Homo sapiens: one gene and its partner. Each later gene encodes a partner of the first gene's protein in a complex. Each region holds a gene or a part of one and is shown in the gene's direction. Other genes may lie near its edges. The genes, in order: SF3A3 and SF3B2.

What was found.
Region 2: SF3A3 (region 1) and SF3B2 share a complex: the UniProt entries of both Homo sapiens proteins name them as parts of the 17S U2 SnRNP complex.

What each region holds. Positions count from the first base shown.
Region 1 is NC_000001.11:37,983,351-37,987,164, reverse strand, and holds part of SF3A3 (splicing factor 3A subunit 3), read left to right. Parts: intron 1-2,385; coding exon 2,386-2,458; intron 2,459-2,904; coding exon 2,905-2,996; intron 2,997-3,814. UniProt on the Homo sapiens protein: Component of the 17S U2 SnRNP complex of the spliceosome, a large ribonucleoprotein complex that removes introns from transcribed pre-mRNAs.
Region 2 is NC_000011.10:66,058,610-66,062,423, forward strand, and holds part of SF3B2 (splicing factor 3B subunit 2), read left to right. Parts: intron 1-220; coding exon 221-436; intron 437-591; coding exon 592-729; intron 730-905; coding exon 906-986; intron 987-1,172; coding exon 1,173-1,400; intron 1,401-1,972; coding exon 1,973-2,122; intron 2,123-3,076; coding exon 3,077-3,166; intron 3,167-3,281; coding exon 3,282-3,389; intron 3,390-3,814. UniProt on the Homo sapiens protein: Component of the 17S U2 SnRNP complex of the spliceosome, a large ribonucleoprotein complex that removes introns from transcribed pre-mRNAs.

The sequences.
Region 1 (3,814 bases):
GGAGGTTGCAGTGAGCCGAGATTGCGCCATTGCACTCCATCCTGGGGGACAAGAGTGAGACTTTGTCTCAAAAAAAAGAAGTCAAGGCCACATTTTGTGGGCAGCTCCCAGCCAGTGACTGAGCACAGTATGGGTACTAGGGCCCAGCAATTTGGTCCACTCTGAGACTCCTCTGATGAATAATCTTTGCTCCATGGCTCCCCGTTGGGTTGGTCAAGATTTTGTCCAATCTGCATTGTGGTCTAGGCTATCCTGTCCTAATCCTACTTTCTCTTCCTTTTTATCTTTCACAGAAATTACTCTCCCCAATAAATTGTGTTCCTAACTCTGTCTTTTTTTTTTTTTTTTTTTTTGAGATGGAGTCTCGCTCTGTTGCCCAGGCTGGAGTGCAGTGGCATGATCTCGGCTCACTGCAAGCTCCACCTCCCGAGTTCATGCCATTCTCCTTCCTCAGCCTCCTGAGTAGCTGGGACTACAGGTGCCTGCCACCACGCCTGGCTAATTTTATGTATTTTTTAGTTGAGACAGGGTTTCACCATGTTAGCCAGGATAGTCTCTATCTCCTGACCTTGTGATCCGCCCACCTCGGCCTCCCAAAGTGCTGGGATTACAGGCATGAGCCACCGCGCCCGGCCCTCATATGCCCTGGAGCTCACTTATAATAAGGTAAAGAGAAAAAGGGCCTGGGAAGGCTTCCATCAGAAAGGTCACATGACCACTCCAGGTGGTGTTGCCTTACTGAAGTTAAGCAAAAGAGAGTTTCAGAAAGGCAGTCATGGTGTCAACTGTTATTGATTTATATCTGCCAGGATTGCTGCTTCATTAAAGTAGTATGAATGGAAATCTGGTCACAAGGTAAAGATGGGTAATGGGGAAGTAGAAGTATGGAGTATGGAACATGCATTTGAAAGGCTGGTAGCCAGGTGCAGTGACTCACGCCTGTAATCCCAGCACTTTGGGAGGCCGAGGCGGGTCGATCATCTGAGGTCAGGAGTTGGAGACCAGCCTGGCCAAAATGGTGAAACCTCTCTCTACTAAAAACACAAAAATTAGCCGGGCATGGTGGTGCACGCCTGTGATCCCAGCTTCTCATGAGGCTGAGACAGGAGAATCGCTTGAACCCAGGACATGGAGGTTGCAGTGAGCTGAGATCACGCCACTGCACTCCAGCCTGGGCAACAGAGCAAGACTCCGTCAAAAAAAAAAAAAAAAAAAGTCTGGTAGGAAAAAGAAGGGGAGAAACAGGAGGGTATTGGGGAAGACAGAGAAGCATACTTATTTGAAGGAGCACAGGGAAAAAGGAAGAGACTAAAAACAGCAAAAAATAGAGGCTGTTTATTGCAATACATAGCGCGGAGGTAAATGAAGGGACCCTCACACACATAGCCCCCTTGGAGGATAGAGAATGAGGTCTTCTGCTAACCAAGGGAGAATAAATGAATACCATTCTGATGTGTTAACCTTATTCCAGCCATGGTCAAAAGGTAATGAGGAATAAATGCTTAAATAACTGATTAGAAGGATGCCCAAGATATACTAAATGTCAGACGCAAGTCTTTTATGTTAAAAAAACAAAAACAAAAACCTATGCAGGCATGAATGTACTTGTACAAATACATATATTTAAATACATAGAGCACTGTTTTCCAAACTTTGTGCATATTTGAGCCACCTGGGGATCTTTAAAAAGTACTGATACCTGCCCTCCTTTGATTTAATTGGTATCAGGTGCATCAGGATTTAAAAAAAAAACTCCCCCAGGTGATTCTAATGTGCAGCAAAGTTTGGGAACCACTGGCATAGCAAAAGCTCTGTTAACAGTGGTCACCTGTTCTCAGGAGAATTAATAAAGGTGGACTTTTGAGTTTTTGTGAGCATGTGTTACTTTAGTGGGTTTTACTCAAACAGTACAAAAAAGCGGGGAAAAACAAGGTAATTGGAGAACAGTAGTAGATTTCCTAGTGAAAAATCAAGGCCAAATAAATCATCAGAAGTCCAACTTTCTGTGTATTTCATTTCTGTGATCTTGCAACTTTTACATTGAAAAATCCGCCTGCGGTCAGGCACAGTGGCTCATGCCTGTAATCCCAGCACTTTGGGAGGCCAAGGTGGGCAGATCACTTGAGCTTAGGAGTTTGAGACCAGCCTGGGCAACATGGCAAAACCCTGTCTCTACTAAAAATACAAGAATTAGCCAAGCGTGGTGGTGTGTGCCTATAATCCCAGCTACTCGGGTGGCCGAGGCAGGACAATCGCTTGAACCCGGGAGGTAGAGGTTGCAGTGAGCCAAGATTGTGCCAGTGCACTCCAGCCTGGGCCACAGAGTGAGAATCCATCTCAAAAGCAAAAAGAAAAATCCACCTGAGCTTTTACTTTTCCCCTCAGATCTGTGTGCCAATGTCAGTGGAATTTGAGGAACTCCTGAAGGCTCGAGAGAATCCAAGTGAAGAGGCACAAAGTAAGTAGGGGTGAAAATTTCATTCAGCACCAGCAAAAATACAGGTTAATGACAGCTCAGATTTGCAGCCATGGCCTCAGAGATATTTATAGCCAGGATTTCTTGCTGGTTTTGTCTTTGCTGGTTTCTGGGCTAGAGTGACATCCTAAGTTGGTCTTGGGCAAAATGTTCATTTTGTTCTCTCCTACCTCAAATTTACTGGCTTGGAAAGCCAAGGATTGTTCACTTTAGTTCACAATACTAAAATGAGTCAGTCCTTGTTACCTTGTAAGAGAAAACTCACTTTTGATCTCACTTAACTTATTGGAGGTTATATTGTGAGCAAAGGGAAGACATTTGGGTGAAGTGCTGCCTCAGGAAACTAGGAACACACAGTCCATTTGAAAAGGTAAGTCCAAGAGAGTGGTCTGTAGAAACTGAATCATTGATGTATCTGATTCCCTCAGACTTGGTGGAGTTCACAGATGAAGAGGGATATGGTCGTTATCTCGATCTCCATGACTGTTACCTCAAGTACATTAACCTGAAGGCATCTGAGGTAAGGCCTGGGAAAGGGCAGAGAGGTTCTGATTCTCGAAGTGAGTCAGGACAGTAGGCTGGAACTAGCAGACATGAAGCCATTGTAAAGTGTCTTCCTTGTGTTTTAAAACTCTTATGTAAATATTAAAGAGGTGATATGCTCTCTTGGAATGAAATACTATTCAAAATGAAAGTTTTCTACAGTGAAAACAAGAAGCATATTTATTTATTAATACTTTTTTTTTTATTTTGAGATGAGGTCTTACCATGTTGCCCAGTCTGGAGTGCAGTGGTATGATCTTTGCTCACTGCAACCTCGACTTCTGGGCTCAAGTGATCTCCTGCCTTAGCCTTCTGAGTATTTGAGGCTACAGGTGCATACCACCACCACACTTGGCTAATTTTTGTCTTTTTTTGTAAAGATGGGGTCTTGCAGTGTTGCCCAGGCTGGTCACAAACTCCTGACCTCAAATGATCCTCCTGTCTCGGCCTCCCACAGTGTTGGGATACAGGCATGAGCCATTGTACCCAGTCCATTATCAATACAGCAAGCATATTTTACCTTTGCCAAAATAAATCTTTTTTTTTTTTTTTTTTTTTTGAGACAGGGTCTCACTTTGTCACCCAGGCTGGAGTGCAGTGGCGCGATCTTGGCTCACTGTAGCCTAGACCTCTTGGACTCAAGTGATGGATCCCGCCTCAGCCCCACCAAGTACTTGGGACTACAGGCGTGTGCCACCATGCCCAGCTAATTTTTTGTATTTTGTGTAGAGATGGGGTTTTGCCATGTTGCCAAGGCTGGTCTTAAACTCCTGAGCTCAAGCAATCCGTCTGTCT
Region 2 (3,814 bases), on another chromosome or scaffold:
TCTGAGACGCACAGTAATTTACCCAAAGGCATACAGCTTGTGAGTGGCAGAACTTTGGAGTCTGACTCCAAGGCCCCTTCGCAGCTACTTCATGAGATGGCCTCCTTGGGAAAAGCCTGACTGTTGAACTGTGGGGGAGAATGGGGGAGGAGTTTAGGGGTTGGGGTGCTGGCACAGTGCTTGGATTCCCTGACCCAGCTGGTTTTCCTCCTCTTGACAGAAAAACCGGAAGCGTAGGAACCGAAAGAAGAAGAAAAAGCCCCAGCGGGTGCGAGGGGTGTCCTCTGAGAGCTCTGGGGACCGGGAGAAAGACTCAACCCGGTCCCGTGGCTCTGATTCCCCAGCAGCTGATGTTGAGATTGAGTATGTGACTGAAGAACCTGAAATTTACGAGCCCAACTTTATCTTCTTTAAGAGGATCTTTGAGGCTTTTAAGGTACAAGGAGAGCACACTAGGAAGGGGCAGTGCCAAACAGGGAAGGGGCTCAGAGGTGGGTGAGAGGCAGCGGTGAACAGGCATCTTTTAGTGCTGGCCTTAGGAACTGGGAAGGGGCTCAGAGGGCAGGGGTTTCACCTTGTCTGCCTCCTTAGCTCACTGATGATGTGAAGAAGGAGAAAGAGAAGGAGCCAGAGAAACTTGACAAACTGGAGAACTCTGCAGCCCCCAAGAAGAAGGGATTTGAAGAGGAGCACAAGGACAGTGATGATGACAGCAGTGATGACGAGCAGGTCAGGCCCAGCCCTCCTGGTGGGAAGCAGGGACTCTGGGCACAGGTGGCTGAGATGCATCCAGAGAGGGACCATGGTGAACTCTTACAGAGCTTTGGTGGCTTAAGGTTGGGGTGGGTTGGGCAGTTTCATTCACATCTGAGTCCTGCTTAAAAGGGCTGATTGTTCTGTTCTAGGAAAAGAAGCCAGAAGCCCCCAAGCTGTCCAAGAAGAAGTTGCGCCGAATGAACCGCTTCACTGTGGCTGAACTCAAGCAGGTAAGACCTGAGAGGATCCTGCAGGCCCTGGAGCCCAGCTGGGAGACCACCTGGGGAGCCAGGGAGGTGAAAAGGAGTTCTTTGAAGGAGGTGTGGGTGATTTGGGTTTGGGTCCTTTGAGGAAGAAGAGCTTCAGAACTGAGAAGTCGGGGCTCTCGAGAACACGCATTACTATGTGTTTTCCAGCTGGTGGCTCGGCCCGATGTCGTGGAGATGCACGATGTGACAGCGCAGGACCCTAAGCTCTTGGTTCACCTCAAGGCCACTCGGAACTCTGTGCCTGTGCCACGCCACTGGTGTTTTAAGCGCAAATACCTGCAGGGCAAACGGGGCATTGAGAAGCCCCCCTTCGAGCTGCCAGACTTCATCAAACGCACAGGCATCCAGGAGATGCGAGAGGCCCTGCAGGAGAAGGTGAGGGCCTGGCAGGGCTCAGACCTGCCCCCGGGTGTCCCCATCCTTCATAGCAGTGTGCTTCAAAATGGGAATCTGGTTTGAAACCCACCTACCACCTACTTGTTACTTGTCTAATTATCCTTTTGTTTTCCTCCTCTGCTCTTCCTCCCCTCTGCCTTCACTTTGCCAGCTCACCTGGTGACTCCTTTCTCAGATGTACTTTGTGGCTAGAGATTCGTGGTGGTTGTGTAACTTCTTAATTTTAAAGCTTTTAGTTAAATGCTTTGAATTCAGGAGGTAGAAAAGAACATGGGGAAGTCTCTGCTTTCCAGAGAACTGTTGAGATTCATCTCTTGATGAGATGGTTTAAAAACTAGTTATTGATATACACGGCTGAGGCTGATATTGTATAGTCTGTTTTGTTCAGTATGGATTATGTAATTTTGAAAGGTTTTAGCAGGAAGGATTTTGATGACTTTCAGGGTGAGATAATTGAGGCTTCCCATGATCTCATTTGGAGTTGGGAGCTGGATTCTCTACATGAATTTGGTGAGTACTTGTTAAGGCTTGTTTGCTGCCATTCTCCACAGGAAGAACAGAAGACCATGAAGTCAAAAATGCGAGAGAAAGTTCGGCCTAAGATGGGCAAAATTGACATCGACTACCAGAAACTGCATGATGCCTTCTTCAAGTGGCAGACCAAGCCAAAGCTGACCATCCATGGGGACCTGTACTATGAGGTTCGGGAGGGGGCTGGGAGAGGTCAGGCTGGGCCTTGGGGTTGAGACTGTCTAGGGCTTTTTTTTGTTTGTTTGTTTGTTTAAAAAAGATGGAGTCTCACCCTGTTATCCAGGCTGGAGTGCAGTGGTGGGATCTCGGCTCACTGTAACCTCTGCCTTGGGGGCTCAAGCAGTCCTCCCATCTCAGCCTCCTGAGTAGCTGGGACCACAGGCACACCACACCTGGCTAATTTTTTGTATCTTTGGTAGAGACAGGGTTTCGCTATGTTGCCCAGGCTAGTGTGGAACTCCTGAGCTCAAGTGATCCACCCGCCTCAGCCTCCCAAAGTGCTGGGTTTATAGGCATGAACCACCGCACCTGGCCAAGGAGGGCTTTTGAAGCAACTACGATAGTTCCTCAGCCTTAGAATTGCCCATCGACTACCCTCGGATGAGATGGAATTTAAAAATGAGGCTCTATTTGGAGGAGAGATGCAGATCTGGTGGCTTCTTTCCCTGATAGACTCTTCGTATCCTGTCTTAGAAATGATAATAGTTTGTGGTAGGTGGTTTAGGGATGGAGGGGCCAAGGGGCAGATGCTTTTAGGAAACTTTTAATATTGGGAGTGGTAGAGAAATTGCTGGTTTTTTCTGATCCTTGAAATCGTAGTCACCATGATGTCATGGAATTTATGAGGTGGAAGAATTTTGCATATCTTCCTGTCGAGTGCCCTCATTTTACAGATGAGGAGGCAGGTCCTAACGTTGGCCGTGTTCTCATAGTGGGTTATTGACAGCACTGTGAGTCTGGCCTGGTTTTTATTCCTTCCCCGACTTTGGCCAGGGAAAGAAGTGATGAGAATCAGAGTGGGAGCCAGGTAGCCCTCACTGGGATTTTATATCTGATGTGCGTTAGGATTGTGCTCCCACTGAGTGTCTGGGTCTACAATGTAGCATGCTCTGCTTTTCCCTCAGGGGAAGGAGTTCGAGACACGACTGAAGGAGAAGAAGCCAGGAGATCTGTCTGATGAGCTAAGGATTTCCTTGGGGATGCCAGTAGGACCAGTGAGTGTCAGTTAGCTGTCTGGGGAAGCAGCGAAGAGGCTGGTGGGGATTGGAGTGGAAGGCAGAGACAGGGATAGGGTTTGGCAGATGGTATCCTGTTCTCTTTTTCCTGCAGAATGCCCACAAGGTCCCTCCCCCATGGCTGATTGCCATGCAGCGATATGGACCACCCCCATCGTATCCCAACCTGAAAATCCCTGGGCTGAACTCGCCCATCCCTGAGGTGAGCATTGTCCTTTCGTTCATTCTTGGCCATTTCTGCTTTTGAACTGGAAGGTAATTTGTTTGTTTTCCTTCTCTAACTCCACCATGTGTCTCTTTATTTACTTAAAAAATATTTTATTGACATAATATTTGTCATATACCATGTGTATGTGTAGAAAAACAAATAATGGTTTTTGTTTTTTAAAGAAACTGACATGCTCATCATAAAATATTCAGTCAGAATTGACAAGTACAAAGATGAAAGCAAGTCACAATTTTACCACTCAGAAATAGCCAAATTCACTGTTTGGTGAATGTGTTTCCAGATATGTCTCTGAATATTAAGAATGACCAGAGAGAAATAATTTTATCTCAGCCAGATGTGGTGTCTCAACACCTGTAATCCCAGCACTTTGGGAGGCTGAGGTGGGAGGATCCCTTGGG